Linked DNA regions of Homo sapiens: region 1 is linked to region 2. Evidence: fine-mapped expression QTL. A gene starts in region 2. The other region holds a variant in brackets. All regions are shown on one strand. Distances are from middle to middle. Region 1 has its middle 120 kb from the start of LINC02839. Region 2 holds the start of LINC02839 (long intergenic non-protein coding RNA 2839).

What was found.
Region 1: its variant is fine-mapped to the expression of LINC02839 in testis (GTEx, PIP above 0.99).

Annotation. Positions count from the first base shown.
Region 1 is chr8:82,035,731-82,052,428 of GRCh38, forward strand. No RefSeq gene overlaps it. Among named protein-coding and RNA genes, the nearest start is that of LINC02839, 120 kb to the right of the region's middle. The variant C/T (reference allele first, on the strand shown) is at 9,909.
Region 2 is chr8:82,152,381-82,169,078 of GRCh38, forward strand. LINC02839 (long intergenic non-protein coding RNA 2839) reads right to left here and starts at 8,133. Exons shown (of 3, transcript NR_183481.1): 1 at 8,037-8,133. It overlaps LOC105375930 (a long non-coding RNA gene), which reads left to right and starts at 8,389. Exons shown (of 4, transcript XR_929113.2): 1 at 8,389-8,713; 2 at 9,557-9,617.

The DNA of each region.
Region 1 (16,698 bases), 120 kb before region 2:
AAGTAAGGTCCTTGCTTTTCTGACCCTTCATTCTTTACACAGATAATCAACAGGCAATCAAAAAATAATTCTGCAAGGCAGTGATAAGTTCTATGAAAAAATGAAACAGAGTAATGAGGATAATGACTGAGCCGGGGACTTAGATGACTGTGCTTCAGATACTCAGGGAAGGTCTCTGTGAGAACGTGGAATTTCATTATTTCTTTCTATTGATTCAGCCCATATTTATTGAGCTCTTACTAGGTCCTAGGGATACATTTGAGCAAAAACCTGAATGATGAGAGAGACCCAACTATTTGAAAATATGGAGCAATACCATTTCAGGAAAAATGTACACTCTATTAAAAAGATCCCTGAGGTAAAAAAATATCTAGAGAAGATCAAGGAACTGAAGAAGTTGTGCAACGTGGTTGGAACATTGTAAATGTGAAGGTGCATCATCCCGAAGTGATCAGAGAGGCAGGCAAGAAGCTGACTATGCAGGGGCTTTTGGGGCACAATAACGAGTTCAGTTTTATTCTGCATGTAATGGGAAGCCTTAGAGAGTTTAAGCAGATAAGGGATACAATTCATATATGTTTATAAAGATTACTCTAGCTTTTTCGTAGAGAATGAAATGTTGAAGAGCAACAATAGAAGCTGGGATACCAGTTAAAAGCCCATTTCTGCTGTCCAGGTAGGAAATAATAAAACTTGATAGGCAGCTGTGGAAAAAGAAGAGGTTGTAGATTGAAGGCATATTTAGCAGTTTGAGCAGGCAAGATTTTCTGAATTGGCTTTGTGAAGTTAGGAAAGATGAGGACTCTGTTTCTGATTTTGGCCAGATGACAGGAGCCATTTTAGAGATAAGGGAGATTGAGAGAGAAGACTGTTTTAGAGCTGGGGTCAGAAATAATTATATTTGTTTTGCAAAAGTTAAATTTTGAGGTGTCTGTAGAGATCTGTGGAGATGTACTGTAAGTAGTAAATATTCAGTTCTGGAGCTCATGGGGTTAAGGGCTGAGGCTGTTGTGTAATCGGATGTCACCAGCATTCAGATGATATGTAAGGCAGTGGGACTGCAAGACATCATCTGAGGGGAAAACACTGAAAGAGCAGAGAAAATTGTGAGCCACTCCATAATTTTAACATTAGGAGTAGGAGATGCATCTAGCAAAGGGAGATCCAGAAGGAGTAGTTAGATTGAACCAAGCAAAAAATCAGGTAATTCAGTGTCAAAGAAGCTAAGTGCAAGAAATATTTTAAGAAGGAGCAAATGACCAACTTTGTCAAATGTCTTAGTAAAATAAAGACAAAAAACTGAGTGCTGAGTTTGGTAATTTGGAATTATTAAGTGGCCTTGATGGGAGTTGTTTTAGGGAGGTTGCCAGGGTTATTGTGAAACTTATTAATATATGAAGTTAGGCATTCTAATTTTAATTACTTTTCCCTTCCTCAGTTTCTTCATGTGTAAAATGGTGATACTAATGCTTTTACGCCTGTGTCACACTTTTTGTGCTCATATCACTAGATTTTTAAAAGGAATAAATGGCAATCCATGAGAAAAATGAAACTATGCAGAGTGACATAAATGTATGCTTAATATATATGTATATTTTTTATATAATTGCAGGTAAGCATGTTTTAAGAAAATTCACATTCAGCATATGTCTCTGATGAATGGATGTTCATTCCTTTAAAAACAAGTTTCATAAATAAAAATTGTCTCTGAAATCATAGATATTTAAATAGTTGGACTTGTCTTTAAATATATATGGAGATATGCAAAAAATACACATTGTTTTAAAAACAGATATTGAAATATAATTTTCCAAGGTGACCTAAACTTAACGTAATCCTAACTCTAACCCAGGTGACATATATAAACATTTTAAAGGTGCTCAAAAGTTTATTTTTGGTGATCATCTTTCATTAAAAAAAACTAACCATTTCTACCAACATCACCATCCTTACAACCACATTTAAAATCACAGCAAAAATAGCTACCACTTTTAGTGCATATTACATATCAGATACTTTATATGTATAATCTCACTTAATCTTTACAGCTATAATATAGGCATAATTATGATTTCCACTTTACAGATAAAAATTGAGGCTCAGAGAAGTTAAGCAATTTGTTCAAAACCTGCAGATAGTGTCAGAGTTATTTTTAAAATCAATTATTTCTTAATCCATCGTTCTCACTCAATGCAATTGTTTCTCATCATATTTGGGTGTGTTGACAGGTTAGATATGGAAAGATAAAGGTTCTGGAGTAGCTATGTAGTTAAAATTTCTAGACTTGAGACCAAAGCCAAGTTTTACTTATTCTAGAAAACACACATACACACACATGAAAAAAGCCAGAAGGTAGGCTAGAACATCAGGCCAAGGAGAGAAAGGACTTGAGATATAGCAAAAGCATTTGCAAATGTGGAACTCTATTCAAGACTGAATGTATATATTGCAAAAGGGACAGGGCAGAAAGCCAGGCAATAGGTAAATAAAACATAATATATCTTGGTTGTCAGTTCACTAGGCTGGAGAGAATTCTAGGAGTCATGGTTGGGAATGCTGAAGTTTAAAGATATGATATCCATCCTTTGGAGAGGCTCATGAAACAGAAAACCAATATGTATGTGTTTTAAGGGTACCCAGGGTTTGCTTTAATCAGGTAAGGTAAGATATGCATTATTACTGCACTAAGTAATCACCTTGCAGCACTGGACCAGATCATTCTGAAGTTGCTAAAGGGTATGTCTGTGGGTGGTATAGAGAAATAGGACTAGATGATTTCTAAGGTTTCCTACTGCCTGTGTTGCTTAGTATAGTCTAATGGGGTCTTTAGAAGAGCGTGATATAAAACTTTTTCTGGCAGTGTGTGCAGGATGCACTGCTGAGAGGGAGCTCACCCAGGAGAGTGCTGTAATTGAAGCAATTGGCATAGCGAAGAATTGAACTAATAGTCAGCAAACCTGCATTCTAGCTTTCCCTATCCCACTCTGTTGCTGGGTAACATTGAGTGACTTCCTGGACCAATGATTAAAAAGAATTCCAAAGAGTTTAGAGATTCAAAGCTTGGAAGAAGAGCCAACAGTGATGGAATGAAATAGTAATGGAAAATCATGTGGTAAAATACATTGTTAATTAGGTATATAGAAAGTATACAATAAATATATATTCCTTTGTATATAATTCCATTGGATGGTAGGTTTTCTAAGGAAAGTAGGTTGTAGTCAACCTGAAGATAATATGGATATTCTTATTAAACTTAAACAGAGATTTCCATTAATTACCTCTCCTTTTCTCCTGTTCCTATAATGCTAGTTAGCTGCCACAGGGTCTCTGGTAAATAACCTAGTAAGTGTTTCTTAATTGCCTTTTATTTTGCCCTAAATGTTTTCCCTGTCTTACAAAAATAGACTATATGTGTCTCAGGTTAAAAACCTATGTCTAGATCTCTTACAGCATCTAGAAGTATGGATACTTTCAAAATATTAAGAGACTATGAATTTGTTGCTTGGAATAATTTTAGAAAGCTTCTACTTTTTGTCCTCTAGTGATGAAGAAATCTGTGGGAGGATGAGGTGCTCATCCAAGGTCAAAGGCAAGGTAGTGCTGGTGCCATGACTCAGCCTAGTGCCTGGTTCTCAACCATGTCTCTTGATTGATAGGTTTAGTATTGAGTGCTTGTTTAAGCTTTCTTATGAGCTGACTGATTTTTAAAAGAAAAACTAAATTCATTTAAATGTTTTACAAATTCTAATTGCCCACGATTATATAAAATTTCTTGGATGATATAATTTTTGACTAGGCCTTTATTCTGTCATTTGTCATTGATATAGATGACAGGAACAGAATATGTATCAAAATGTCAAGTGTACTAGGATGATGACATTTTATGTAAGCGCATAATTAAATCACGTTTTGGAAGAACTGATAATCCTTATTTCCAAAGGAAATGAATTATGCTTCAGAACAATTTTTTGAGGTGTCTTCAGTTGGCATTCCATAGCTCGGTACCAACCAGCTTTATATGTTACCCCAGAGCTGCCAAAGAAGAAAAGATGATGCTTTCTGTGCCAACGTGGGGAAGACTATGTAAAAATGTACCAATATCTAAACCCTTCCCCAAGGCACAGTGGAAGATGCACATTTTATTTCTAACAGCATGTCCTGGGGCCAAAAACTAACTGCTTACCTTCACTACAAACATTGACAGAGGTATGATCCAATACGGGATTAACTGAAAAATATTTGCTTACTAGGAAGTGATATCACTCATAGGGCTGCAAGTGATACTAATAAAAAATGATTTTGCAGCACTAATGTTTGGTAACATCTGTGTTTTTATGACAATTGTTTGTGACTGTCAAATTGCCAAACTCTTTACTCAATCCCTCATCAAAAGGGGAGAAGTATGGTGATAATTTTTAAAAACTTAAGTATATCCTGATTGTACTTTATGGTTTGCTGAGCATAATCCTATAGGGTAGAGAATGTTAACAATAAAAACAAAAATGTGTTGTAAAAGAACTTTAACTTCCCTTTTTATGTGTATATGTATGTGTGTGTTTGTGTATATGTACATAAATCAGCTGGAAGACAAAAGTAAAAAATCATGCTTCAGGATTATTTTAATGATTAGATCCTGAAAAAATTATTTTAAATTTATCATTTATAATTTGATTGTGCATTCTTTATATTTTCTACTGTGGCATGTGTTGTATGTTTATGTAGCTTTAAATTTTATATTACACTAATGATGATTGTAATGGTTTCTTAAGTGGAACTTGAAAATTATTTAAATATGCCAAATATTATTTCCTCCCAGATCTTGCATTTTCAGTGACAAATGAAGACAAATGAGGCACTGCTATGGGTATAGTTATTTAAATATTATATTTTTCTTATGGGTAAGTTGCATCACTTAAGACATCTTTAATTAATTATTTAAGTGAGTTCTGTGTCTTCTCCTCTGCATCCAAAATTGCAGATATAAAATGTCAGAGAAACTTTCTTGCAAGGGAAGAATAATTTTCCAGCTTAACAGTAAGCTGTTTTGATATATACTCATTGATGAACAAGAAAAAAGTATTAAAAGAAGGAGATGTGAATAGGTAATAGAGATAATTTGTTGTTAGTATGTTTCCTAGCTGTGATCCAAGAGTGGTAATCTAAGACTCTCTTTCTGATTAGTTTAAGCAGCCAATTCAGGGATGATAGACAATCAGTGTTGAGAGAAAGGAAAAAAAAAGTCTGTCTATCTATCTATCTATCTATCTATCTATCTATCTAATCTCTCTCACTCTCTCTCATCTCTCTCATCTACCGTATCTATCATCAATATAATCTAACATCTATCTCATGGATCTGCCAGGGTCTTGTCGAGAAAACAAAAACTACATTTAGAATTTCAAATACAGATGACCTAATTTATGGAATTGTGTACAAATATATTATAGGGCTCAAAGAGTATAGAGAGAAAGCTGTGGTATCCCATAAATTTGTAACTGTAGGAAGGAACAACTACCCTTAGAAAAGAGGGTATGCTACGAGAAACTGGGAGATTGAAAGAATGGTCCCTGCAGGGCTGATGCTCGGGCCTCTGAGGTGGAAGTGTGGCCTCGTGCATGCTTGCAGCTCCCAGGGACGCAGGCAAGTGGCTGGTGCTCTGGCTCCAAAAGAGTGAGGCCTGGGGTCTTGGGTACCCCCGAGGGATGTGAGGAAGCAGAGCGATGTTTCTATTGCAGAAGAAGCTTGAAGCTGGAGGCCACTATTATGCTGCTGCTAGAATAATGCTAGCAGCAACTAGAAAACATGAAAATAGTCCCTCATACCTTTATTTTTCTTTCCAATCTCCTTCAAATAAAAAATAAAACCTAAATGAAAGCCAGAATGCAAGGGCATATGGAAAATGTAATGTATAGAAAACTAGTCCTGGCCTCACAGAGCCAGGTACAGAAAGGGGTGCTTGCAGCAGAGAGACAACAGCCAGCTCATCTTATTCTTTACTGCCTTCATAGCTCAGATTTGTTTTCCTGGCAGCCTTCACTTAGATGTCTACCAGGTGTCTCAAATATCAAAATGTTGCAAAACCAAAGAGATTTTTGTTTTTCACCCCCAAATATGCTTTTCTCATGTCAGTAAATGGTGCTATAATCCATCCACCTATTTGGTGCAAAATCTAGTCGTCATTTTTGACACCTCTCATTCTCTTGCATTCCAAATTTAATCCACTAGGGAGTGCTATCAGCTCTACCTCTAGAAGAGACCCTGACTCTATTATAGATACTTCCTGACATCTCCACAGCTGTGATCTGAGCCCATCACCATCCTTTCTCATGGAATATTTATTTAGTCTCCTAACTAGGCTCCTTGCCTTCATCCATGTAATGTTTTACTACTTTCCTTTTCACGCACTGTGACTCAGTTGCCCTGGAATAGGACAAACTCCTTTCCTCCTCAAAGCCTTCTTTCTGCCTTGAAATCTATTCTTCTGCATATTTGCATGGCTATGTCCTCCAAATTAATGCTGCAGCTTTAATTTCAGCACCTAAGGGAGACCTTCCCCCACCATGTTTTTGCACCTTGCTTCTCTTGAGCCACTGTTGCCTTCTAATATATTCTTAGTCTTTTTGGTTTTCTTTATGATACTTGCCTTTACCTATAACCATCTTTATAATTGCATATTCATATTCTTAATCTCTCTTAGAATAGCAACATCATAGAGCTTAAAGAACACCCACAAGGTATATTTATTGACAGAAAAATATCTGTGAAAGGGACATAAAGCCACAGGTTCCTGAAGCCAAGGTAACTCTGTTAAAATGTAGGAGAGCACTTATACAAAGGTAGGATTCATGGTGAATAAAAAGGGAATACTTTTATCAATAAATTGTTAAAAAAATAAGTCAATAAAAATATTTGTAATAAGTTTATATAGAAAACTGGTTAAGCATTAATCTATGGATCATATATTTTAGATTTTAATTTTCATATATTTTTCAAGTGTTCCCAGGCATTCAGACTATAGGTGTGAGTTTTAGGTTTTGGAGAAGTATTTTCAGACACAACTAAACCACTTGAGAGAAGAAAGCATAAATATAAACCAAAGAGCTGTCAGCTCTGTCACATCTCTTTTATTAGTGAGACATTTATGTCAGGACTAACTCCTGTTGCGGAAACAAATGTGGACTAAGTAAGGAATGAGAGTTAATGGAAAGCAACAGAAATTATATGAGAGATAGGGAGAAGCAGAATTCTTAATCAGCCAAAATTTTCACAGACCAAGTTGTCAGTGGTTTCTCAAAACTAGTTCTTTTCTTCTGGATATTGACATTCCAGAAGGATGCAATAGGTGGGACAGAAAATAATACAGCTTTGTAAGATGATGAAGCTTTTCAAATCTAGGAAAATTCATCTAAGATGATATGGTAGGAGAAATGAAATTTACAGCAAATTGGCTTCAGCCACTAGTAGAGACACAGAGCATTAGCGGTTCAAGCCTCTGAGGGTCAAAAAAAAAAAAAAAAAAAAAAAGAAGCCTTGAAAATCTAGGAAGCACAGAAAGTAGGAAGAAAGTAGGAATCATGTAATTGATGCCTTCCCCATACAAATGGGTTTAGATATTTAGAGGAATAGTATCTTGGAGACACAAAGATTTTCCCCAAACTTGCCATTTGTTGATGCAAGGCTGTATTAGTACGTTTTCACACTGCTGATAAAGACATACCTGAGACTGGGTAATTTATAAAGAAAAAGAGGTTTAATGGATTCGCAGTTCCACGTGTCTGGGGAGGCCTCACAATCATGGCAGAAGGCGAAAGGCACTTCTTACATGGTGGCAGACAAGAGAGAATGAGAGCCAAGTGAAAAGGGTTTCTCCTTATAAAACTATCAGATCTTATGAGACTTACTCACTACCAGGAGAACAGTATAGGGGAAACCGACCCCATGATTAAATCATCTCCCACCGGTATCTCCCACAACGCATAGGAATTATGGGAGCTACAATTCAAGATGAGATTTGGGTGGGGACACAGCCAAACAATATCAAAGGCTTTGGTAAGTTGTCTTAGTGGCATCTCTTTGATTTTGGCTAAGAAACAAATGCATAGAGTCAAAGCACAGGTTACAGGGACTCTAGCAGTCCCTACTTGAGGTTGCTATGTTTCATTTGCCCTGTGCAGGTTTTAAAATCCTGAATTATCATTGTCTCTACCACTCTATGTGAAGGACTCAAGGACACTTTTAGTTCTTACAATTACACTGTAATGTTTGAAGTGTGGTTCACTTTGTTACAGTGGATATGGAGCAGATGGAGAGATAAAAGATATGCAAACATACAGAGAAACATGTATTTACTTATGAACAATAGTAATTTGAAATTAACATTGTTCACTTACCCAAGACTTACTCTTCAAATCTTTAAGCACTACTCTATTCTACATGACAGCCCAGTGAAACGAGGCTTGAGTTCACAAACATGGAATTATTACCTAATATTTTAATATTTTTTGAATGCTTAATAAATTTACAGGTACCATGGGGAATTCTCTAAATAAGTAGCAGGATATAGGTGTTTAATTTTTTTCTCCCCATCTTTTTTTTGATTGCATTAAAATAATATGACTTCTTCACCTCACTATCTAGTTGGATTTGAAGATTAAGCCAAAGGAAATTTATTTTCCTTCATTTACATCCTCAATTTTTAAAAGCCACTAATCACTATCATTAAAGGATATAAGAAGAGAAAAGGGTTTGCTTAGATATTAGAAAAGAGAAGAGGTTTTCTGAAGAGACAGAAGATAGTACATTTCTTTGGCAGAAGAAAATATTTTCTCACATATACCTAGAGAAGGAAACAGAGCTACCATTTGACCCAGCAATCCTCATCCCTGGATATGTAGCCAAAGGAAAATAAATTATTTTACTAAAAAGACACATGCACTCATCTGTTCATCACAGCACTATTTGCTATGCCCAATAGCAAAGACATAGAATTAACTCAGGTGCCCATCAATGATAGATTGACTAAAGAAAATGTGATATGTATATGCCATTGAATACTATACAGCCATAAAAGAGAATGAAATCATGTTCTTGGCTGCAACATGGATGCAGTTGAAGGCCATAATCCTAAGTGAATTAATGCAGGAGGAACAGAAAACCAAATAACTTTTGTTCTCACTTATAAGTGGGAACTAAACAATGAACTCACATGGACATGAACATGGGAACAACAGTACACATGGACACTGTGGACTGCTAAAAGGGAGAAGGAGGGAGGGGGGCATGGCTTGTAAAACTACCTACTGGGTACTATGCTCACTACTTGGGTGATGGGACCTATACCCCAAACCTCAGCATCACACAGTATTCCCATGTAATAAACTTGCACATGTACCACCTGTATCTGAAATAAACCCTGAAATTAAAAAGAAATAAAAAAAGAAGACTTGAGGATAAGAAGAAATAAAAAGGACAGATAAAAAAGATGATTTTCAGAAAGAGCATATTCTCTAATAGCTGATCTCAGGAAAGTTTCCCAGGAAGGAAAGGCTGGTGTCTGGGAAGAGCCAAACGTGAGGACTTGCAAATGATCAATGTAGAGTCATTGTTGGGTTTCCTGGCTCCACACAGGAACTGAGACATTGCAAACTGCCCCACCTTCAGTTGAGCACACACTTTGCATGGACTGCATCCACCTAGAATCTGTCCTAGCAGTTCCTCCTGTCAGTGTCTTTAAGGACCTCACTTCTTCATCCTTCAGGGTCCTATGGGGTTTTTGCCCAGTAGGAAACATACCTGACCTTGCCCAAAGACTTGCTTTGCTCCTGTTTGAGTATTTATTCTTGCCCTCCCTGACTCTGCCTGGTGCAAATCCCCATGACATTTGTAAGTAAAAAATGTTAGGATTCAAA[C/T]CTGTGCTCCCTAGCTATATCTCTCTACTTGGGACACTTAAATAGAATCACCTTGAGACTTTCTCTGGTGGGATCAATGTTAAATATCACAATTGTATTACCTCATTTAATATTAATAACTTAACAAGGGTAAGTTTGGTTGTTAGTAGCTATATACCCATTTGGTAGGCACATTTTATATAAAAAGGAAGCTTTCAGACGTCGCACAGCTTGCAGACAATGAAGCCACAGGAGGTATCCTGTTTGTTCCACTCCAAAGCCAAATTCTTCATCCCATCTCTTCCAACCCCTTCCTTTCTCTCCCGTCCCTTCCCTTCCCTCCCCTCACCTCCCTTCACTTTTCTGTTTTCTTTTTTAATCGCCCCTCCCCCATCTCCCCTTCAGTTTTCTTTCCTTTCCTTTTCTATTTTCCTTCCTTTCTTCTCTCCCATTTCTTTCTTCTTTTTTCTTTCCCTTTTCTCTTTACTTTCCCTTTTTTCTTTCTTTCTTTCCTTTCCTTTTTCTTTTCTTTCCTTACTTTTTTTCTTTCATTTCCTATCCTTTTCTTTGCCTCTTTTCCTTTTTATTTTTTGCCACTCTCTTCCTGCTTCTACAAGCGAAGTAACTTAGTATGTAGTATCTTAACATTTTAACAAAGGCCCTTTCCATTGCATTGTTGTCTGAGTTGTCTGAGTTGTCTCAGGTGGCTAATGATAGGAATGACCCCATTTCAAGAAGTAATTCAACCCTTATATCCGTGAATTGGCCTTCTTTCTAGAAAAGAATATAAACATCTTAAATATTTAATACGTATGATTCCATACAAGAGTCATGTAATGCATTTCTGGGAGTATGATTTATTCATAACAGGCCAGCCTGTTTAAGACTGGGTGCCTACTGTAAACAGCTGCTGAAGGAAGAGATGGGGGAGGTGAGACAGAAAGAACTCACAGGCTTACAGATTCAAAAGAATGAGAAAGGTCTTAAATGGCCGATTTGCCTCCGTCTTATATGGACTTTATAACTCTCCATCCTGACAATTAGAGACCTAATCTAATTTAACCAAATTTAAATGTTCCTTATTAAAATGTTTTATGTCATTTATTTAGACTCTATTTCAGTCCTTTTGAAGTCAAGTTTGGATGTATAGTTTATAAAAAGCATGGAACTCAATATATTTTGAGATTTTGTTATTACAGTTATATATAATCATAATATATGGCTAAGAGTATTTTTTATGCATGTCTGATGTCTGTCTTTCAATTACGTATGAGTTGAGCAATATTGAAAACAAGAGAGCCATCAATACCCAAATATTCATTTAAATATGTGTATCTTAGCTCAGTGGAAATACACCAGTAAGAGATAAATTGAAAATGGTGTTTCCTCAAAAGATTGTTAGCATTGCAAGTGAAGGCTTTATTTACTGTTGCCTATATGGTTTTTGAACTTGAATGTTAAATATGGTATGTAACTAGATTAAAATAGAGCTGGATCCAATAGCATGTATGTGAATTTGAGGGAACTTACCCCACAAATGACATGTTTTTGGTCTAAAGCAGTGAAGGGGAGCTCTAGATCTTAGTAAACAGTTGAAGTATGTCCTTGTAAGTGATCGTGCGGGTGATCAAATGAAGTCTCACAATTTATCAATGAACAAAGTACTTAGTCTTGCTTTTCATGTATGTCATAATTCACATTTATAGGTTGCATCTAGAATATTTATTTTTCTATTCAATATTTTCTTGTTAATTACTGTTGATTTCCTTTTAAGTCAGCAGAAGATAAAAAAATCTATTTTTTGACTTGTAAACTTGTTCATCTAATACTTTATTTACATGAATTATTTCTGATATATTCTATAGGAATAGTTGATAATATTAGCAATAACTCACATTCCTACAGAAAAAAAATTTGGTTTTTCTTGTCAATGAAAAATTCAGGGTTTTGTTTCTCAATGTAAAACTGTCACTATTTCTGAAGTAGTAGAGTTTTGCTGAAGAAATTGCTTCTTAATCAAGAAGGTGCAATCTGGACCCTCCTTGAAGCAATAGAAAAGGACAAGTAAAACATAATTGAATAGAATAGCAAGAGCAACACATTTACAAAGGATTTTATCCACAAGTCAGATTAAATCATAATCAGCTCCACTGTTTAAATGGGACCATGGTTTTATGCAAACTTGGAAATTACTCAGGAAAGGATAAATAGAATGGAGGTTCCTCTTATCTGACCCACTGACAGTTTTCATGTTTATTCTTACATTCTTTATACTTGCACGATCTAACACATTTATTCTTCCCACTGGAGTCACTCTGATATATATTATACATTAATATGCACATTTGAATGAGGTGTCAGGTTCCAGGTTATAATAAAAGCTACTTGTAAAGGATTTTCTCCTGATTTCAAATCTTTAAAACAGCCACAACAGATTAAATTATTTTTAAGGAAGATAAGTTGTGCTTTATTACTTCTTCTTAAATGTTCAAAAATTGCTTTATTAGTTATTCTATAGTATATTCCTAGTGAATACGTTCATATTAGACCAAGAGGAATGAAACACGTCACTGAGAAGGCCCTCTAATGAGCCATATAGAACTGAAATAACTACATATGCATTCCACAAATGGACCATTAATTGAAAAAAGAACCAAAGTGTGAAGATATAATCCTATAGGGTGGAACTTAAAATGGTGATATATTTTAAGGCTTTAGAACTTTCAATTCACTTGTGTGGAAGAAAAGGTGAATGTGAAACATAATTTGTTTTTTCCTCTATCTAAGGTAAAGCATTTCCATTAAACTGCTGTGGTAACTTAACATTGAGAAAGCAATAATTTTTGAAAACTTTGTCAATTTAGCAAGAATTCTTCTCTTGATTTAATACTTCTTTTTTGCTTTTTTTTTTTTTTTTTTGAGACGGAGTCTCACTCTGTCGCCCAGGCTGGAGTGCAGTGGCGCGATCTCGGTTCACCGCAAGCTCTGCCTCCCGGGTTCACGCCATTCTCCTGCCTCAGCCTCCCGAGAAGCTGAGACTACAGGCGCCCGCCCCCATGCCTGGCTAATTTTTTGTATTTTTAGTAGAGACGGGGTTTCATCGTGTTAGCCAGGATGGTCTCCATCTCCTGACTTAGTGATCCGCCCGCCTTGGCCTCCCAAAGTGCTGGGATTACAGGCGTGAGCCACCGCGCCCGGCCTTTTTTGCTTATTTAAGTACATGTATTCATCACACTGGTGGCTCTTTTCTTGGGTTGCTGGTACTGCAGGGACTGATTAAGATGGAAAGTCCCTACTTTAGGATAAACAAGTACATCTCAATACTGCTGTGCCCACAAACAAACGTGGTGAGAACTGGGGCCCTCTTTGGAGGAACATATACTTTATCTCCTGCACTGGAATCTTTTTGAGAGTAAAAGGGGGAGCTTTTAATAATTACAACTGGGCCACAGGCATAAACCTGGTCTGTTCTTGACACACTGGGATATATGGTCATCCAACTTATTTCAAAGCAGCAGATCATTCGGTGTCTCATGTTGAACCTCCGTCCACATTGATTGATCTGTTATTTTCTTGTACCTTACTTGCCTGAATCCCATCTTCCTTTGTTCTATTATATATCTACTCTTAGCTTAGGTTAGCACTTTTCTGACTCCAGTTCCCTCACTTTGTCTTTCTTTTTCTCTATGTGTATAAATTTATCATGTCATTTTAAAGAAGTGATTAACAAGCTGTTCTGTGGAGAGGTGTGATGTGAGGGCTGGTAAAAGAAGGACTGGAGGCAAAGCGTGGGTTTTCAAGCTCTGCCTTTGCTTCAACTACGGCAGCTCTGTTTTATTTATTTTATTTATTTGTATTTTTCCCAAGAAGCTTTTATCTTAGAACAGATTAGTTGGCTAAAATGTGTTCCAAATTTACTACATATTATCTTTAATAAGTCCATGAATTTGCTTCAGATGATTCATGAAACTGCTGAAATTTTGTGTGATAATTTGTTTCTTCATGTAGTTATATTTTTCTGAGGAGAAGATACACACACACATTTTTTATTTATTTAAAAAGTTTGTAAGTCATAATGAATTAATCACCGTCAGTCAATGGTTACATGTGACAGCTTGAATTTTCAAAAACAGATCTGATTTAGAAATGACATACAAGAACTTTGAGACTGTTTATAGCTGATAAATCATCCCCTAAGTTTCTATTGAAGCACTGAAAAAAGGATACTGAAATGAGGCAATAACTCATTATTGTTGGGGGAAAAAAGAGAAAAGAATGTTATTTGAATCCACATTTGGTTAGAGCCATTCCTGCCTTATTTGTGAGTTAGCATATTTGATACATGGGGAATTAAATATCTTTCTGCTCGATAGCTTTCTCTGAAGCTTGGCTAAATAGAAAAGTCATTGAATCAAACCAAGTTTAAACAGAAAACTTCTCCGTTTTCTTCAGTTGCGTAGCAAACATTTCCAAGACTCAGTGCCATAAAAATGATATTTATTATTTCTCATGATGCTGTAGGTTATTGCATGTTTTCTTTCTTCATGTCTTGCCATCTGGGGGTCACTCAGGTGCCTGTGTAAGGCCAGGAGCTTGGCCAGGGCACCTTGGTTCTCCATGTGGCATCTTGTCCTTCTGGGTCTTTCCACATACACTTTATCTGCAGGAAAAGAGCCTACAATTCTTTACAATACGGAGCCTGGCTTCCAAGGGAATAACCTCCAAATGCTTACCAATCCTCTGCTGACTTCATATCTGGTCATCCATGGCCAAGGCAAGCCCTCTGTCCAAGCCTAGAATTTATATGGGAGAGAACTACCCAAGGCATGAATGTGGGGAGACATGATTCAGTAGGAGCTACCAGTGTAATGTCCAGCACAGAAAGGAACTTGATAAAGTTGTTTGCACCAAGCAGGCTGGTATTTTATGGTTCTATTCAAAATATCTTCTGAAATGTCCAGAAAATCAAAATTAAGAAGAACATAGGCATAAATACTAAGGTAAAGGCAGAATTGAGTTACTTGAGAAACGTACATATAAGTGATAGATTAATATGAAAAATTGCTTTTATAAAAAATCTATCAAAATAGACAAAGCTTCATAATTAAAAATCAATTAAAATAGAGAAAACATGTACACAAAATAAGGAACAAAAGTGGGTCTTAGGGCTAGAAATAATTATGGTTAATTCTAGGCTTACTAATATGTACTTCTTAATTCTATTATGGGATTTGTAACCAAATATTATAAATAAACTAATTTGAAGTAAAAACACTGAAACGGATGGTGCAAAATTTTCATTATTTGTAGATAATGTGATTCTTTGTCCAGGTAAGTATAAATAACTCAAAGTGATTAGAATTAACAAGACATTGAATATTTATAAAATATATATGAAAAAAATAAAGAGCTATATTATTTATCAGCAATCATTCTTTATACAACAGTTTTCATTCACATTAGCAGCAAAATTTTAAACTATCCAGGAATAAAGTAACACATTGCCAGTTAATGGAAAGCTGTCAAAAACATTTTCTTGATGATCAGTGTATTAGTCTGTTCTCACACTGCTATAAAGATACTACCTGAGAATGGATAATTTATGAAGAAAAGAGGTTGAATTGACTCACAGATTCACATGGCTGGGGAGGCCTCAGGAAACTTACAATCATGGCGGAAGCTGAAGGAGAAGCAAGGCACATCTTTCATGGCAGCAGGAGAGAGAGAGAGACAGAGAGAGAGGGAGAGCGAAGGGGGAAGTACCACTTTTATACCATCAGATCTCATGGGAACTCACTCACTATCATGAGAACAACATGGGGGAACCGCCCACATGACTGAATCACTGCCCACCAGGTCGCTCTCTGGACACGTGGGGATTGCAATTTGACATGAGATTTGGGTGAGGACACAGCCAAACCATATTAATCAAGGACTAAAAAAATGAGCAAGAAGTGTTTAGGAGGTATATAAATAAAGCTAACACAGATAATTTGAGACATAACAAAAGGCTTGATTAAATAACACATAGGATTCCAGGATGGGTATGAATATTGTAAATATTTCAGTTTTATTCTATTAATTAAAAAATATGCTTCAATTTTATTACATACCTCCCAAGAACTTTTTGGAACTTCAAGTCATACAGAAGTTTAATGGAAGAACAAAAAAAAAGGTGAATGATATACATTTCTTTTTTATAAAAGAAGAGAAAGGCATGGGGGCACCACCAGCACTTAATATTAAAATAGTGCCAAGACTGGATGCAGTGGCTCCTGCTTGTAATCCCAGCACTTAGGGAGGCCAAGGCGGGTGGATCACTTGAGGTTATGAGTTTGTGACTCACTTAGCCAACATGCTGAATTCCCGTCTCTACTGAAAATACAAAAAGTAGCCAGTGTGGTAGCGGGTGCCTGTAGTTCCAGCTACTCTGAAGGCTGAGGCAGAAGAATCACTTGAACCCAGGAGGTGGAGATTGCAGTGATTTAAGATTGTGCCACTGCACTCCAGCCTAAGTGACAGAATGAGACTCTGTTTCAAAAATAAATAGAAATAAAATAGTACCATGATAATCAAAGCAGAATGCCACTATCACCAAATCCCAACAGTCAAATTAATGGGACTATATAAAAATGTCAGAAACAGGCTTCATTGCCATCAGAATTTGGTATATGATAAAGTTTCAAACCAGTAGTAAAATCACGGTTTAAATAGAAACGCTGCAAACATTATTACCTGATAATAAACTAGATCTTTATGTTAAATCATAACTTACAATAAGCCAAAACAATGGTAACTGGTACATTTGCCT
Region 2 (16,698 bases):
ACCAGGATGGTCTTGATCTCTTGACCTTGTGATCTGCCCTCCTCAGTCTCCCAAAGTGCCGGGATTACAGGCATCAGCCACCGTGTCCAGCTAAAGCTATTTTCTAAATAAGATTTGGTAAATGATTGTTAGAAAAATTTAACATTAAGAAAAGTGGTTTTATGGTGAAATTCTTTAACAGACTTAATTTTTCAGATTAGTTTTATGTTTATAGCAGAATAGTGCACAGTACAGAATTTCTCATATACTCTTTGCCTTCACAGAGGCATAGCCTCCCTCATTATCAATATCTCCACCAGAGTGGTACATTTGTTACAATTTATGAACCTACATTGACACATAATTACCACCCAGATTCCAAGACCATAGTTTGCATTAGGGGGTCACTCTTGGTATTGTACATTCTATGGATCTGGACCAAAGTATAAGACAAGTATCTACCAGTATAGTATTATACAGGGTATTTCCATTGCCCTAAAAATCCTCTGTGTTCTGCCTATTCATCTGTCTTCCCCTCTAAGTCCTAACAGCTACTGATATATTTTTAGACATTTTTGCCTTTTCCAAAATGTGATATACTTGAAACCATATAGTAAGTAGCCTTTACAGACTAGTTTCTTTCAATTAGTAACATGAATTTAGGTTTCCTCCATACCTTTTCATGGCTTGATAGTTAATTTTTTTTTCTAGTGCTGAATAATAGTCCATTATCTGAATATACCTTAGTTTATCCATTCACTTACTGAAGAACATCTTGGTTCCTATCAAATCTTAGCAATTATGAATAAAGCTGTTATACAAATCCATATGCAGGCTTTTGTGTGTACATATATATTCATTTTGGGAGAAAAAAACAAGGAACGTGATTTCTGAATTGTATAATAACAGTGTGTTTGTTTATTTTATTTATTTATTTATTTTTTGAGAAATTGCCAAACTGTTTTCTGAAGTGGCTTTACCATTTTGCATTCCCACCAGCAATGAATGGTAGTTCCTATTGCTCCCCATCCTTCTCAGCATTTGATATTGTCAGTATGCTGAATTTTGGCCATTCTAAGAGATGTGTAGTGTTATCTCATTGTTGCTGTAATTTGTATTTGTATTTCTCTCGTGACATATGAAGTAGAACATCTTTTCATATTTATTTGCCATCTATATATCTTCTTTGATGAAGTGTCTGTTAAGGTCTTTGGCTCAATTTTAAAACTGCTTGTTTGTTATCTTATTGCTGAATTATAAGAATTTGTTTTGTATTTTAATAGCAATTCTTTATATGACGTCTTTTGCAAATATTTTCTTCCAATCTGTGATTTGTCTTTTCATTCTCTTGACAGTGTCTTTCATAGAGTTTATTAATTCTTTCTTTCATGGATTGTGCCTTCGATGTTATTATTTCTAAAAGTCATTGCTAAGTACAATGTCATCTATAGTTTTCCTGTGCTATTTTTCTAGGAGTTTTATGGTTTTGTGTTTCACATTTAGGTCTGGGATCTATATTGAATTAATTTTAAGGAAGTGTTTAAAATCTGGGCCTAGATTTATTTTTTGAATATGATGTCCAGTTATTTCAGCACTATTTGTTGAAAAACTATCTTTTTTTCTATTGTATTGCCTTTCCTTCTCTGTCTCTAAGATTGGTTGACTTTATTTATGTGGATCTGTCACCGGGCTCTCTCTATTCTGTTCCATTGATCTGTTTATTTTTTCACTAATGCCACATTGTCTTTTTAATTTAATTTATTTATTTATTTATTTTTTGAGATGGAGTCTCGCTCATCGCCCAGGCTGGAGTGCAGTGGCATGATCTTGGCTCACTGCAAGCTCCACCTCCCGGGTTCACACCATTGTCCTGCCTCAGCCTCCCAAGTAGCTGGGACTACAGGCGCCCACCACCATGCCCGGCTAAGTTTTTGTATATTTAGTAGAGACGGGGTTTCACCATGTTAGCCAAGATGGTCTCGATCTCCTGACCTCATGATCTGCCCACCTCGGCCTCCCAAAGTGCTGGGATTACAGGCGTGAGCCACTGCGCCCGGCCCACACTGTCTTTATTATTGTTGCTTCATAGTAAGTTTTGAAGAAAGGTAATGTAAGTCTTCCAACTTTGTTCTTCAATACAGTGTTGGATATCCTGCCTCTTTTACTTCTCTATGTAAACTTCAGAATTAACTGGTCAATATCCACAAAGTAACTTGCTGAGGTTTGGACTGGAACTACATCAGATCTATAGATCAAGTTGGGAAAAACAAGCATCTTGACAATATTGATCTTTCCTGTTCATTAATATGGGACATCTCTCCATTTATTGAATTCTTCTTTGGTTTCTTTTATGAGAATTTTGTAGTTTTCCTTACACAGATCTTGTACATATTTTGTTAGATTTACACCTAAGTATTTATTTTTGGGGTGCTAATGCAAATAATATTGTGTTTGTAATTTCAAATTTTACTTGTTCATTGCTGGTATATAAGAAAGCATTTGACTTTTGTATATTAACCTTGTATTCTAAACAACTTGCTATAATTAAGCAATTAGTTCCTGGAGATTTTTTTTTGTCGATTCTTTTGGCTTTTCTACATAGATAATCATGTCACCTGTGAATAAAGACGGTTTCATTTTATACTTACCCATCTGTATACCTTTTGTTTATTTTTTTGTCTTATTTTATTAGCTAGAATTGTCAGTGATGCTGAAGAGCAGTGGTGACAGGGGACTTTCTTGCCTTTATTTTAGTAGGGAATCTTTGAGTTTCTCACCATTAAATATGATGTTAGTGTAGGTTTGTTGTAGATACTCTTTAAGGGAAGAAGCCTCCCTGTATTCCTAGTTTAGTGGGGAAGTGGTTTTAAAAAAAATCAAAGTCAAATGATTCTACTTCCAGAGGAAAATCTCCTTGACCACTTGGCCCAATGCATATTATCTTATGAAAATGCAAGGGCACAGAGCCTGAAAAGGCTGGAGTAGCACCTGGAAAATATCTCTAATCTTCCTCATCAAAATTCCAGAGGTTTTGTCCTTCTTTCCTTCACTAAGTCATAGTTATACATCCCATTACTTATTTCAGTAAAATGCCCCATTTTTTCCGATAAATAACATTTTTTTATTTCATTTAGAAACAGGTGATCTCTCTCTTTTAGTCAAAAGAAACATGCCCAATTCTCAAAGCAGTATCATATTCTTTCAGAAATAGCTTTGTTGATGTATTATTCACATACTATCCAATTCACCCATTTAAATTGTACAATTCAGTGATTTTGAGTTTGTCACAGGGCTGTGTAAAAATTACCCCAATCTGATTTTAAAATATTTTTGTGTCCCCTAAAAGAAACTCCATTAGCACTCATTATTCCACACTTACTCAAGCCCTATGCAACTATTAATCTTTTACTTCTATATATTTGCATATTCTGACTGGATCTCTTTGCTTTTAATAGTTGTACATTGTTGCCATAACTTTATCACAAATTTAGTAGCTTAAAACAATTTTTATCTTACAGTTCTTTAGGTAACACATCTGAGATGGAGTCTCATTGGGAAAGATCAAGGGCTGTGTTCCTTTCTGTAGGCTTTAGGGGAGAAGAAGTTCCTTTCCATTTTCCAGCTTCTAGGGGATGTCCACACCTGCTGATGGTTCTCTTACTCCATCTTTGAAGCCAGTCTTGGCAGATCAAGTTCTTTTTACATTGCATCCCTATGACTTTTCTTCCATCATCACACTGATGTCTAAATGATTTCAACTCAAGAAATGGTCTCTACATTTCAAGATTCATCTTAGATCTGAGTAATCCAGGATAATCTTGTCTGAAGATTTTTTATTTTAATCACACTTGCAAAATCTCTTTATCCATGTAAAGTAAGGTATTCTCAGGTTCTAGGGATCAAGATGTGGACATTTTGGAAGGAGTATTATTCTGCTAGTTATATTTTTAAAAACCTTTTCAATTTTATACACATTGATTTTTGCAATTAATTCTTAAATTAGTCAAGGGGACAAAGGTGAAGAAATATGCAGTTATAGTGTCCTTTATAATTACTTACATAATTACCTTTACTGATACTCTTTTTCTTAATACATCTAGATCTGAATTACTATCTGTTGCTGAGTGCTTTCAGCCTGAGGAACTACATTTAGTATTTCCTGTAAGGAAGGTCTGTTAGCAACCAATTCTCTCAGTTGTTGATTATTTGGGAATATCTTTTTCTCACCTTCATTTTTGAAAGATATTTTGCTGAATGTAAGATTCTTGACAGCCATTTTTTTTCTGCACTTTGAATATGTCATCCAACTGCCTTTGGTATCTATTGTTTTTGATAAGAAGTCCAAAGTTAATCTTACTACAGTTCCCTTGTACATAAGTAATTTTTCTCTTGCGGCTTCCAAGATTTTCTCTTTCTCTTTGTCTTTCAACATTTCAATTATAAGGTGTCTCTCTCTAGATTTCTTTGAATTTATCCTACTTGAAGTTCATTGAGTTTCTTTAATGTGTACTATAATATTTCCAATAATTTGGAAAGTTTTCAGCCATTATTTCTTCAAATTTTTTTTCCTGTTGTTTTGTATTCCCATTACTACATTGGTGTATTTAATAGTGTTCCTTATTTCTCTCAGAGTGTGTTCATTTTTCTTTATTTTCTTCTCTTTCCTTCAGATTTCATCATCTCCATGTATCTCTCTTCAAATTTATTTATGCTTCCTTCCACCAGTTCACATCTGCTTTTCAGCCCCGCTAGTGAAGTTTTCATTTCACTTGTACTTTTCAACTCCAGAATTTTCTTTTATTTTCAATAATTTATATCTCTTCATTAGCATTCTGTATTTGATAACGTGTTGTCTTTAAATATCTTTTAAATTCTTTAAACATGGTTTCCTTTAGTTCTTTGGACATATTTATGATAGACAATTTGAAATTTTTGTCTCCTAAGCCTACCACCTAATTTTCTGTAAAGGCAATTTTTAATGCCTGCTGCTTTTCCCCCAAGTGGGATGGGTCATATTTTCCTATTTCCTTGCATATTTCCTAATGTTTTGTTGATAACTATACATTTTAGATAATATATTGGTATAACATTGTATACTGACTTTCTTAGGAGTGTTGTTTTTGTTTTTTGCATAGTCATTTATCTAGGGACTTATTTTAATAAATTCTGTAAAGCCTTTTTCCTCTGCCATGTACAGCCTCTGATGTATCTGCTAGAATTGTTAATTTTTTCCTTTTTGCTTATCTTTTATCCTGGCTCTCTGGGAGAAGCCTCTGGTTTGACAGCCTGTTTATTGATTAAAATTGTGTTTACGACCCCCAGTTGGTTAGAATTTTACCTATTACTCTTTTAAATACATGTGTAGCATAAAGTCTATTATATCAGTTCAGATATTTTATTTTATTTCATTTTATTTTGTCCTGTCTTCAGCTTGGAGGTTTTTCTCCCTGATTTCTTCTGGGAAGCATAGTCTTCCAGACTCTCAGATGACTGTGATATTATTTTAAATCTTGACTTCCCAGGTATATTTCCTAGATCAGAGAAGATCTTTGTTCACTCGGTATCTGGTCAGAAGTTATGTTTAAGCACTGTCATTTTTTTTTTAATTTTTAAAAATCCAAATTTAGGTAAGGAGAGACTTTTTTGACGGATTATTGCAAAGGGGAAGAAGGGACTATTGCAATACAGAGAATAAAACAACCATAGCAAACATCTTAAGGATTATGTGAAAAGAGTTATTCTTTTGTAGAGAGGAGTAAACAAGGCTAGAAAGAACAGGATGTTCAGATGTAAGAAGAAAGGGAGGCATGATGGGATAACAGATCAGAGAATGTTTTATCCTGATGTCAGTTTATTTTCAAGAGGAGAAATTTAGGAAAGGTTGCATGCCGGCTGAGGCTGAGAGTAAAATTCAGAGATCTGTAGGAAGGAGAGAAATCTAAAGTTTGCTTACAAGTATTTGGTTCTGATTGATTATGGGGACAAACAGTTCAGCAAATATATATGAGGCAAAGAATAAGAATTTAGAATGTTTGTATCTGGTCTTGTAGGTACACAAGAGGGCCATCCGTGAGTCCTATCTAAGTCACATGAGAAAGGGTACTTCTTTGCAGCAAGCCATTTCCAGAACATAAAGTGTGATGAATTTCTTTAACTACCCTCCTTTTGGTATTTATTGCTGTTTTCTAGGATCAGAAGAGCCTGGTATAATTTAACCTTGTTAGTTCCTGGTGCCATTTAGACTTCCATCCTATGCTGATGGGTCTATCTGTGGTTTGGGAAATGTTTTTAAGCCTGACTCACATTCTGTTCTGCTTGCTTCCTGAGTGGATGCAGCATAGTGCAAGGAGAAAGCCTTTCCACCCTTAGAGCTGATGATAATCACAGAGCAACCCTTCTTGGCTATCTCTTTTCTTGGTTCTTTTTATTGAACTTCTGGTTTCTCTGCAACTTTACTTGTTTCAGAGTTACTGCCTCCTTGTAATTGCTTTCCACAAAGATAGCTATTGTTTCTGGCAACACTCCCATGCATAGAGATCTCCATCCACTGTTACAAATAAAGCCAGTCCCCTCAGGCAGAGCTGAAGAACTCCTCATCCTTATTACCTGCCTTTCTACCTGGGCAGAACCATTGTGCGACTGCACCACAGTTGGGGGCAGAAATCTGTTTCTCCCAGAGTGACATCCCTAGTCTACTTACTAGTTGGCACTAGAGTGTGTAAGGGGCAGCTCTTGATTGTCTTAGCTTGCCCTGCTTGGTACAGAACCTCCATGCTACCAGTGTGCTGGGCCCCAGTATCATCCGCCTTCTTTACTTGAAATAGGACTTCCACACTATGAGCGGGGGTGAAATAGGGGAAGAAAGTCCCAGGTCTTCTTCACCACATACCTTCCTAGAATAGAGCTTGTGGAGGTAGGAGGAGAAATGCTAGCAGCCTGCTCTTCCTGAGACAGAGAGATCCCTGTCTTCTTGACTGCACGTGCCTGGGGTAGAGCTCTTGTAATGTGAAGTTGGGAAACGGAGGTTGGTAATTAAAGAATCTTGGCTAGAATTCCACAGACTCTACTTGTTCTTAAAAAAATTAAATAGTTTTTCTTGAATGAATTTTTATGCATTTTTTTCTGGTGTTTCTAGGACAATTTCCAGATGTTACATTATTTTTTAATAATTTTCATCTCGAATTGCTATTTTTTCTGGAGAGAGAGAATCTGCCAAGATCCTTTTTCATTTTTTTAGAATTATCCCAGCAGCTTATTCTTACTCTAGTTTCCTCTACTTTTTCCTTCCTTTAGCTTCTCTATTTTTATTTAAGTATTTATTTAAATAGTCCCTACTTTTTCCCCTTTCAAACTCTTCCCAAATTATTTAGAGGTCTGACAACTGCACTTTGCAAGGTCTGAACACAGCTTACCCTCAACTTTTGTATGTTAACTATTGTTGGTGATTTATAGGCCATTGGGCTTCTAACTTTTCAGGATTCCACATGAAAATACAGTACCCTTATCTGCAGGGAATATGTTCCTAGACCCCTGTTGGATGCTTGAAACCACAACTAGTACTGAATCTTATATATATTATGTTTTTTTCTATGCATTATATACTTGTGATAGAGTTTACTTTATAAATTAGACACAGTAAGAGATTAGCAACAATAACAAATAATAAAATAGAATAATTATAACAATATGCAGCATCACTACTCTTGTGCTTTGAGGCTACTATAAAGTAAAATAAGGGTTATTTGAACACAAGCTCTGCAATACCACTACAGTTGATCTGATAACCTAAACTGCTACTAAGTGACTAATAGGTGGGTAGTGTAGACAGTGAGGATATGCTGGGTAAAGGGAAGACTCATGTCCCAGGCAGGACAGAGTGGTGATAGCGACAGGAGACAGAAAAATTCCTAGGCAGACAGAAAATTCCTAGGCAGACAGAGACAGGTCTCAGATGAAATCTGACCTTCAAGCCAAGAAGAGCTTATAGCCTGAAAACCCGAGCTGACAGTTCCGAATAAAATTCATGACCACAGTAAGAACTTATATCCCCTTCTTACCCCCTCTCTCTTTATTGGTTCCTTCTGAATGATGCTTTTCAACCAACCAAACCCGAGCTGACAGTTCCGAATAAAATTCATGACCAGAGTAAGAACTTGTATCCCCTTCTTACCCCCTCTCTCTTTATTGGTTCCTTCTGAATGATGCTTTTCAACCAATCAAATGGTGCTTGTTCCAAGACCACCCATGGACCAATCAGCATGCACTTCCCCATTCTAAGTGTGTAAGAACCCTAGACTCAACCTCATAGATGGCTATTCATTTTCACATCCCCTCACAGTGCTGAGAACTTTCTTTGTGTTGCTCAGTAAAATTCTACTCTGCCTTACTCATTCTCTGGTATCCACATACCTTATTCCTTCTGGTTACAGGACAGGAACCTGGAACTCCCCGAAATTGCGGGAGCAAAAGAGGTGTAGTGCTCCTGCTTGCTGAGCAGCGGGTGGTGGGAGTTAAAAGAGCTGTAACACTCCCTCCAACTCCCCAAACAACGGTAGAGAAGAAGCCGTTGGGTGCTACTTCCTCCTGCTCACCGAACTACGGGAGTGAAAAAGCCTTAACAATGGGATAGTGTGAGATTTCATTGCATTACACAGAACAGCACACAATTTAAAAGTTATGAATTGTTTATTTATGCAACTTTTCATTTAATATTTTCAATTATGGTTGACCATGGGTAAGTGAAACCTCAGAAAATGTGAGTGCGGAGGACTGCTGTATTTATCTTTAGCCCTAAATAGAATCATTTGTTATCTGTAATCTCAAATTTTCATTGTTTTAAATACATTTTATTCGTGTGTGTGTGTGTGTGTGTGTGTGTGTTTCACTCATATGCCTGCCTCAATGTATTCTAGTTAAAATGTAAGTTCCTAGGTTACAGAAGCCAGACCTACACATTTCTCTTGGTTCAATGGCTTGCACACCGTCATGAAGTAAAATCAGTGCTAAATGCCTGATTTAGGTGATGACAATGTTTAAGCTAAAATGGAGCATGAGGTAGTAGAATCTTTACAAGAATCTTTAACACCAAGTCACAAGACTCGACCTCAAGAAGAAATAGGTCCAGTATAATAGTCAACCTCCTGATAAAAAATGAAGAGTTCACTCGTTTCCGATTATTCCTTTAACATAGATTTATGGAAGAAACGTTTCCCATGGGAGTGATCATTGTTTCACCTTCCTCACAATATTGTAGTGATTTTTCAAATGATATAATAATGATTGTAAAAGTATTCTAAAAAAATTATTAAAATGTATAAATATAAGGTCATGTTATTCATCACAATTATTTTAAACAGTATATAGTTCTTATGACAACAACTAAAATCAGCATTTGTCTGGTGCACTCAGTTCACTATTTTTACACACAACTTGAGATTACAAAGAAAGTCAAACTATTAGAACCTATATACAAAACAAAACTCTCAATATGTGAAACATTACAGGCATGCTGTGAAACTTCTCTGTCCTTTATAGATGAGATACTATTTTGCTAAGAAAATTTATGATTATATTTTAGAAAGGACACTGGACTGATAGACAGCTCCAAGTCAGACCTTTAACATTCTTCATAGCCTTGGGTAAGTCATTTTAGCCTCACTTTCTCTGAGTGCAAATAGTACCTGTTTAGTCTAATTTGCAGGGCGCTTTGAAGGATCAAATGAAATTCGTGTGAAAAGATATTAAAGTTAAAAAATATTATATCCTAAATCTTTGGTGTTAGTCACTAACAGAATATATTCAGTTGAGTTATAAAGTTCTCAGAGAAAAGCTTCAAACTAAATATAAACTGTATTAGAAGTCTAGAAAAGTATTCCCTTGTTCCTGAAAGGATAAACTCTTGGTTTCTGGGTAATAATAAGTAGAAAAGTTAACATCTATTGGAAGATGGTTCTCATAGAAAAATTGCAGGCATGAAAAAAGGAGCCAGAGGCAAAGCACTTAGAGATAGAGGCATTACCGTGTTGCTTTGGGAGCACATTCAGTCCATAGTGGAGCAGGATTTTGGCAGAGGATAAGGAGAAGAGATTACTTTGTATACATTTTCCTGCTGGATATGTGACATTTTGGTTCATTATTCACCCACTTGGTTAGTTTGATTACTACAGTGGCCTGAGAATCTCTGGAGAAAAAAAAGGGAAAATAGATGAGCCAAAGATATTTGATATATTAGAATACAATTAATAGCAGCAGAAAGTAGTCTGCTGTTAGGGGATGTGGAAGAATAAATGGTTAACACATGCCCTGACAAGTTCTGCTGCTGCTGGAAGAATTCCATGCTGGCATTATCAGAAATGCAGAGTCATTGACTTCCAGGAGTAATAGATTTTTGCACCATTTTTTTTTTCAAAGAAGAGTTAGATAACTAGGAGGACTGATACAAGTTGTTAATATAGTAATTATAATAGTCATTAAGTAATAGTAGTTTAGAACTTCACATGTAGTTTCACTTAATTGTTATGACAGTCCAGCAAGGTATTCGTCTCCATCTTAGAGCTGAAAGAGTTTAAGTACCTTGAGTACAGTAATAGGTAGTGGGTTAGGATTCAGACCTAAAAGGTTCCATTGAAGTGTAGGGGCAGCATATGGTGATTCGACATGCAATTCTAATTTTTGGTTGTTATGTTCTTTGCCTACTTCTTTGATTTCCAAATGCTAATTGTTAGACCCATGTTTCTTCATGTCAAAATTTTCACTGGTTTACTGAGTATCTTTAGGAAGAATTCATGACTATATGCTGGAAAAATCTGCATGGCAAAATTAAGAGCTGGAACATGCATATCTGTTCTTCCTTGTGCCAGTCTAAATTTCTGATTCATAAAATTTGGACATCTTTACACCCTATTGCCGATATGAGTAAATGGATAAACAACTATTAAATGATTATATCGTTTCATCTCTGAAAAAATATTAGTTAGATCTAGGGGCCAGGTTTTTCTTTTTTATCTAAATGTTTAAGTCATTTATAATCTTAAAATGTGCTAAAACAATAAATATGTCAAAAAATATGAATGAGGACAGTTTAGCATTAAGCTTCACTTTGAAATTGTTGATATTTCAAGCATCTGCTATACAGTACAACTCTCATTAATTACGAAGACCAGAATCCACCTGCCACATGCAGATATCCCTTGAGGAAGCTTGCCTACTCTTCCTTTTTGTCTGAGCACAACACAGTAGTTTTTAAGATTCTTTCCATGAATTCTTCTTGTGTTCTTTCACTGGGGCCCGCTTCCAATTTGTGGCTGAAAATATTAGAGTGGTTGCTAAGAAACGCTGAAGTTGGAAATTTATGAGTTTTCAGAAGGTTGCATTGAAGTGTAGGGGTAGCATATGGTGATTTGACATGTTTTGTTCCCTAGCCAAGGAGAGGGGTAGCTGTCTCTGATCTCTGTAATTATTTCCCAGCACTTTAAGATGCCAAGCTGAATTTAAAAAACAGCAAGGCATCAGGGCTAAGGAAAAATAGAATGTACTTTTTGTTTCCAATATGTAGGACCCAAGTATTTGTTGTTCATTTTTTGAAAAAATTAATTGGAATAGTTTTGAAGCTCTAAAAGCAGATAAGTTTTACCTAAAATAAAGACATAAAGCCTCATTTATTTAGCTGAAATAGAAAGGAAGAAAGAATACATATTAATGTGGAAAAAAGGCAGCACTGAAATGAAGGTATTTAATAAGAAAGAGTTATAAAAGAAAATTTTAACATATAAAAATTTATTTAATAACTATTTATTGGAAGAGAATTCAATTTTTCTACAACTCAAGAGTATTTGTGAAAATTAGGAGACAGAGTAAGGAAGACAGATACAAATAAGGAATCAATAAATGAGTAAGGAATTGAAACCCTCATACTGCATAGGTTTTAATTTGTATTATGACATCCACGTGGTCTCAGGGGAAACATCACGAAAATTTTGGATGAATGAATGGAATCATTCATTCGCTTTATCATTCTAAAAATGTTCACCAAGGGCCAACTCATGGTTTCTGGGGCCATGTTAGGAACTAGGGATACAAAGAAGAGAGAGACATGGACTTTGCCCACATAAAATCTATAGTTTGTGAGACACAGGCAAATAAACCAATATGGAACCACATGTGGGAAAGTATAATGATACAGATATGCCAGAGGGCTTTGTGAACACAGAGGGGCACTTAACATAATCATGAAAAAGTAGGAAGATTTCAGGGCAAGATAATTGCTGTAAGAATTCTAAAACATCAGTGGTTTAAAATGGTAGAACTTTTTCTTGCTCATGCATTTCTATATATTTGATGTGTTTGGCAGGGCCCCTTTCACTTGCTGTTTCAGAGACTTACATCCTATGGCTCTAGAATCTCCTAGGGCCTGCTGGATTCTGCATCAAACAGGCTGGGAGCAAAAGGGAGTAGAAGTCTTCTTTATGGGCCAGGTCTGAAAGTGGTACACAGTTTACTGGCCACAACTTAAGTTACAGGGCCACATTTAACCTCAAGAAAAACAATGAACTAACTAGGAGGAATGAAAAACAAGTTTGTTGATTCACTAGCCTGGTTATGACATAGCTCTCTGCAGAAAACATAATCTCAGCTGTGCCTGAAAGATGTAAGCCTGGTAGCCAGGTAAAGAAGATGGGAGAAGGACATTCCAAAATGAAGGAATATCAAGATAAAATATATAAGTATAAACAAAAACTTATGAGGCCAGGTGTGGTGGCTCAAGCCTGTAGTCCTAGCACTTTGTGAGGCTGAGGCGGGTGGATCACTTGAGGTCAGGAGTTCGAGACCAGCCTGGCCAATATGGTGAAACCTCATCTCTACTAAAAATACAAAAAATAGCTGGGCGTGGTGGCAGGCACCTGTAACCCAGCTCCTTGTGAGGCTGAGGCAGGAGAATCACTTGAACTCGGGAGGTGGAGGTTGCAGTGAGCTGATATCATGCTATTGCATTCCAGCCTGGGTGACAAGAGTGAAACTCTGTCTCAAAAACAAAACAAAACAAACAACAACAACAAAAAACTTATGAGACATTTTAAAGACCAGTGTTGTCGGGGAATAAATTGCATGTCAGGATTCATGAGATTTGAAGTTTCACTTCTGATGATTTTTCCTCAGCTACACTTTCCAGTATATCCAGTTGCTTATTTGACATTTCTTAGGGTGACTGAAAGACACATCACATTCAACCCGTGGAAAATCAATTGCAGGATCTTCTACTCTGCTTCCTGGCCCTTGCCCTAGATCCTCTTTAAACTTAATCTACCTTCATCTCATCACACAAATAAAAAATTTGTAAATGATTCTTGACATCTCCTCTCCCTCATCCTATAAAACGAATCTATCACCAAGTTCTACATATGCTAAGTCCAAATCGTTTCTTGAATATGTTCATTTCTCTCCATTACCACTCTACTCCAAACTAACAGCATCTCTTGCCAGATCTATCACAACATGTGCCTAAGTTAATTCCATCCTTGCTATTTATTTTTGCCCCCTTTTAGGCTCTTATTCACAGTGATCCACTTGAAATCAAACCTGTTACCTCCACGATCATCTGCATTTATTGTATAATCACAGTAGTCAGCATTACTCTACATATAGTACATTGATTGTCTCATTCAGTCCCCATAGGTGCCTATAACATTGGTCCCATTCCCATTTCATTTCATCAATAGAAACTTAGGCTTAGAAGGCTTAGGGAGCATATTCAAGCTTACTCAGCTATTAATCAGATTAACTCTTTACAAAATGTAGACTGTATGTCTCCTGAGCCTATGTTCTAAATCACTCTGCTATATTTTCTCCCTCTGTAGGCATTTAAAATATTTATTGAATGAATTAATAAATGAAGAAAAAGTGGCATATTAGTCAGTGTCATGTAAAATAGAGGGTCATGTGAACGTAGCTCATCTTGTCCATGTGGTGAAAAAGAACCACTAAAATATTTTCAGAAAGCAGGGACAGAGTCAAATCTGGAGATTAAAGATGTCTTCACTACATGCACAAGAGATGGAAGGGAAGAGGAAAAATTTTAAAGCAGAGAATATTTCCACTGGACTATAAAATAAAATAAATTGTGAAGGGGGGGATAAGATTATGTCAGAAAGAGATTGAGGTTCTTTAAAGTTCTTGGGGGCATTTGGGTACACTTTCTTTTTCTCCTTCATAGCCTCATTTCCTTGCTCTGTATATCACCTGGTCCAGATTTTATAATGGTGAATAAGACATTATATGTAGATTGACTGCCTAAATAATGTTATTCAAGAACAGTAAATTTGTTTCATTACCTTCTTGACAGTCAATCCCATGGTGATCAGGATATGAGAGAGAAATGAATGTAAAGTTAATACAGTCGAGTTTAAAAGGATAAATATAGTCACAAAAAATATTAATAGAAAGATAAAGTAGCCAAGCTGGGGGAACCTTACTTTTGTGATTGCAGAACACAGAAAAGTTAGTAAACATGTTTTAATTTTGGCTAAGTTTTACTTATTCTACTGAGTCAGAAACAATGGTTCTAAATAATCTCAAACAAACTCTAAAATGTGGTTAAATATAAGCTTACATGCAAAAGAGAATAGAATGACATGCAGTTTTAACCATTTTTATAAATGATAAGTAAATACAGCACATAAAATTTATGTGTGTATGTATGTAAGAATAATTAAAATATAATTCTTAAACTATCTCTCTTGAAATATTTATTTACTCTGACATCTATGTATGTGACTGAATTTATCAGATAGAGTTAAATAACACATGATAAAATATGTTTGGCAAAATTTCTAGTTTCTGCTTTTAATGTCATAAATCTATTTAGGTAAAGGGTTTGATATAAGATTAAAATAGAAAACCTAATATATAGTAATAATACGCAGTGAATATATCAGAAAATGTAATCACAAAAATACTAAATATACAGTCTTTGCAAAATGTTATCCAGTTTTCTGAGCATATGGGTCTTGTATTGTCTGAAAATGTAGAGTCCCTCTATGCCTTATTTGACTTTCAGTGCAAGGAATTATAAAAGCTAGAGGTATAGATGAATTATTTGTAGGAGAGAATCTAGAGAGTGACACAGAAGGAGAAAGTAGCAAATGGAAAGGGAAATTTCTTTTATGCTCCTTTCTGTAAATGCACATTTTTTAGTTTAGGGAGAGATTTGAACTGAGTAATCCTTAATTATTCTATTAGCATGAGGTTCATCGGAGAAAAACATGAAAAGAAAGCTTGGATACACTGTTACAATTCTTTCTTTGTATTTTCTATTTACTTTTGACACTTGTGTTTTTACTTCTAGCTTTGGAGGGTTTATCTACTATTAATAACATATAAGTGAATTCCAATAATTAAAAATTTTTCATGATTCCAGTATCATTTGATTAAGAACAAATATATATCAATCAAGAGAATCACAATGATTTACGTAAGAAAAGTAAAGGAAGATAATTTTTAGACCTTTGCCATTGAATAACGATCAATCTATTTCTTACTTGATAGGTAAGAATGAACAATAAAATAAAAATATAAATTTTTAAAACTATAGCAACAGCTACTGGATTCTGTGTTGGCAAAGTAAAGCAAGGATACTTGTGAACATCTCATCTTTGTAAAAGTTTCAGTGCCCAAATATTTCATCCAGATACTATAAACATAACATATTTAATTCCTTTGAAAACTGTTTTTATAAGAACAGATAACTCTGTTGAATGAGAAGCTCTGTTTTTGCTGAATAGACTGGCCTTGTACAATGACTGAATCAAATGATCATTGGCTTAAATATTTTATTCTAAAAGTCAAGCATGTTAATACTTAATTTCAATCTTTGCAAGCAGGTAAGAACTTCTTCTATTTTAAAAATGCATTCAACAAATAAATCTTTGTTGTGTTCTTCCTCAGTGCCAATCTCTAGAGATCTGTGATGAGTTAGAAACAGTTTCTGCCTTAAAAAGCCCACAATATTTCTGCATAAAAACAAAGCTAATAAACTAAGTAAGAAATTGGAGACCTCAGGAATTGATTATGAATATAAACAAAGTCTTGTTAAAGTATAGATGTCACTTTTTCTGGTGGGATTTAGATATATTCTGTAGCTGCTAAATTTCATAGGGGAATAAAATAATAATAAGCCTGTTCTATAAGGGATTGTACAAAGCAGAAGTTGCTAATATATATTTCCTAGAAGAGTAATTTTTTAAATTATACTTTAAGTTCTGGGATACATGTGCAGAATGTGCAGGTTTGTTACATAGGTATACATGTGCCATGGTGGTTTGCTGCACCCATCAACCCATCATCTAGGTTGTAAGCCCCACATGCATTAGTTATTTCTCCTAATGCTATCCCTCCCCTTGCTCTATAATCCCTGACAGACCCAGTGTGTGATGTTCCCCTCCCTGTGTCCATGTATTCTGATTGTTCAGCTCCCATTTATGAGTGAGAACATGTGGTGTTTGGTTTTCTGTACCTGTGTTAGTTTTGTGAGAATGATGGGTTTCCAGCTTCATCCATGCCCCTGCAAAGGACATTAGCTCATTCTTTTTTATGGCTGCATAGTATTCCATGGTATATATGTGCCACATTTTCTTTATCCAGTCTATCATTGATGGGCATTTGGGTTGGTTCCAAGTCTATGCTATTGTAAATACTGCTGCAATAAACATACTTGTGCATGTGTCT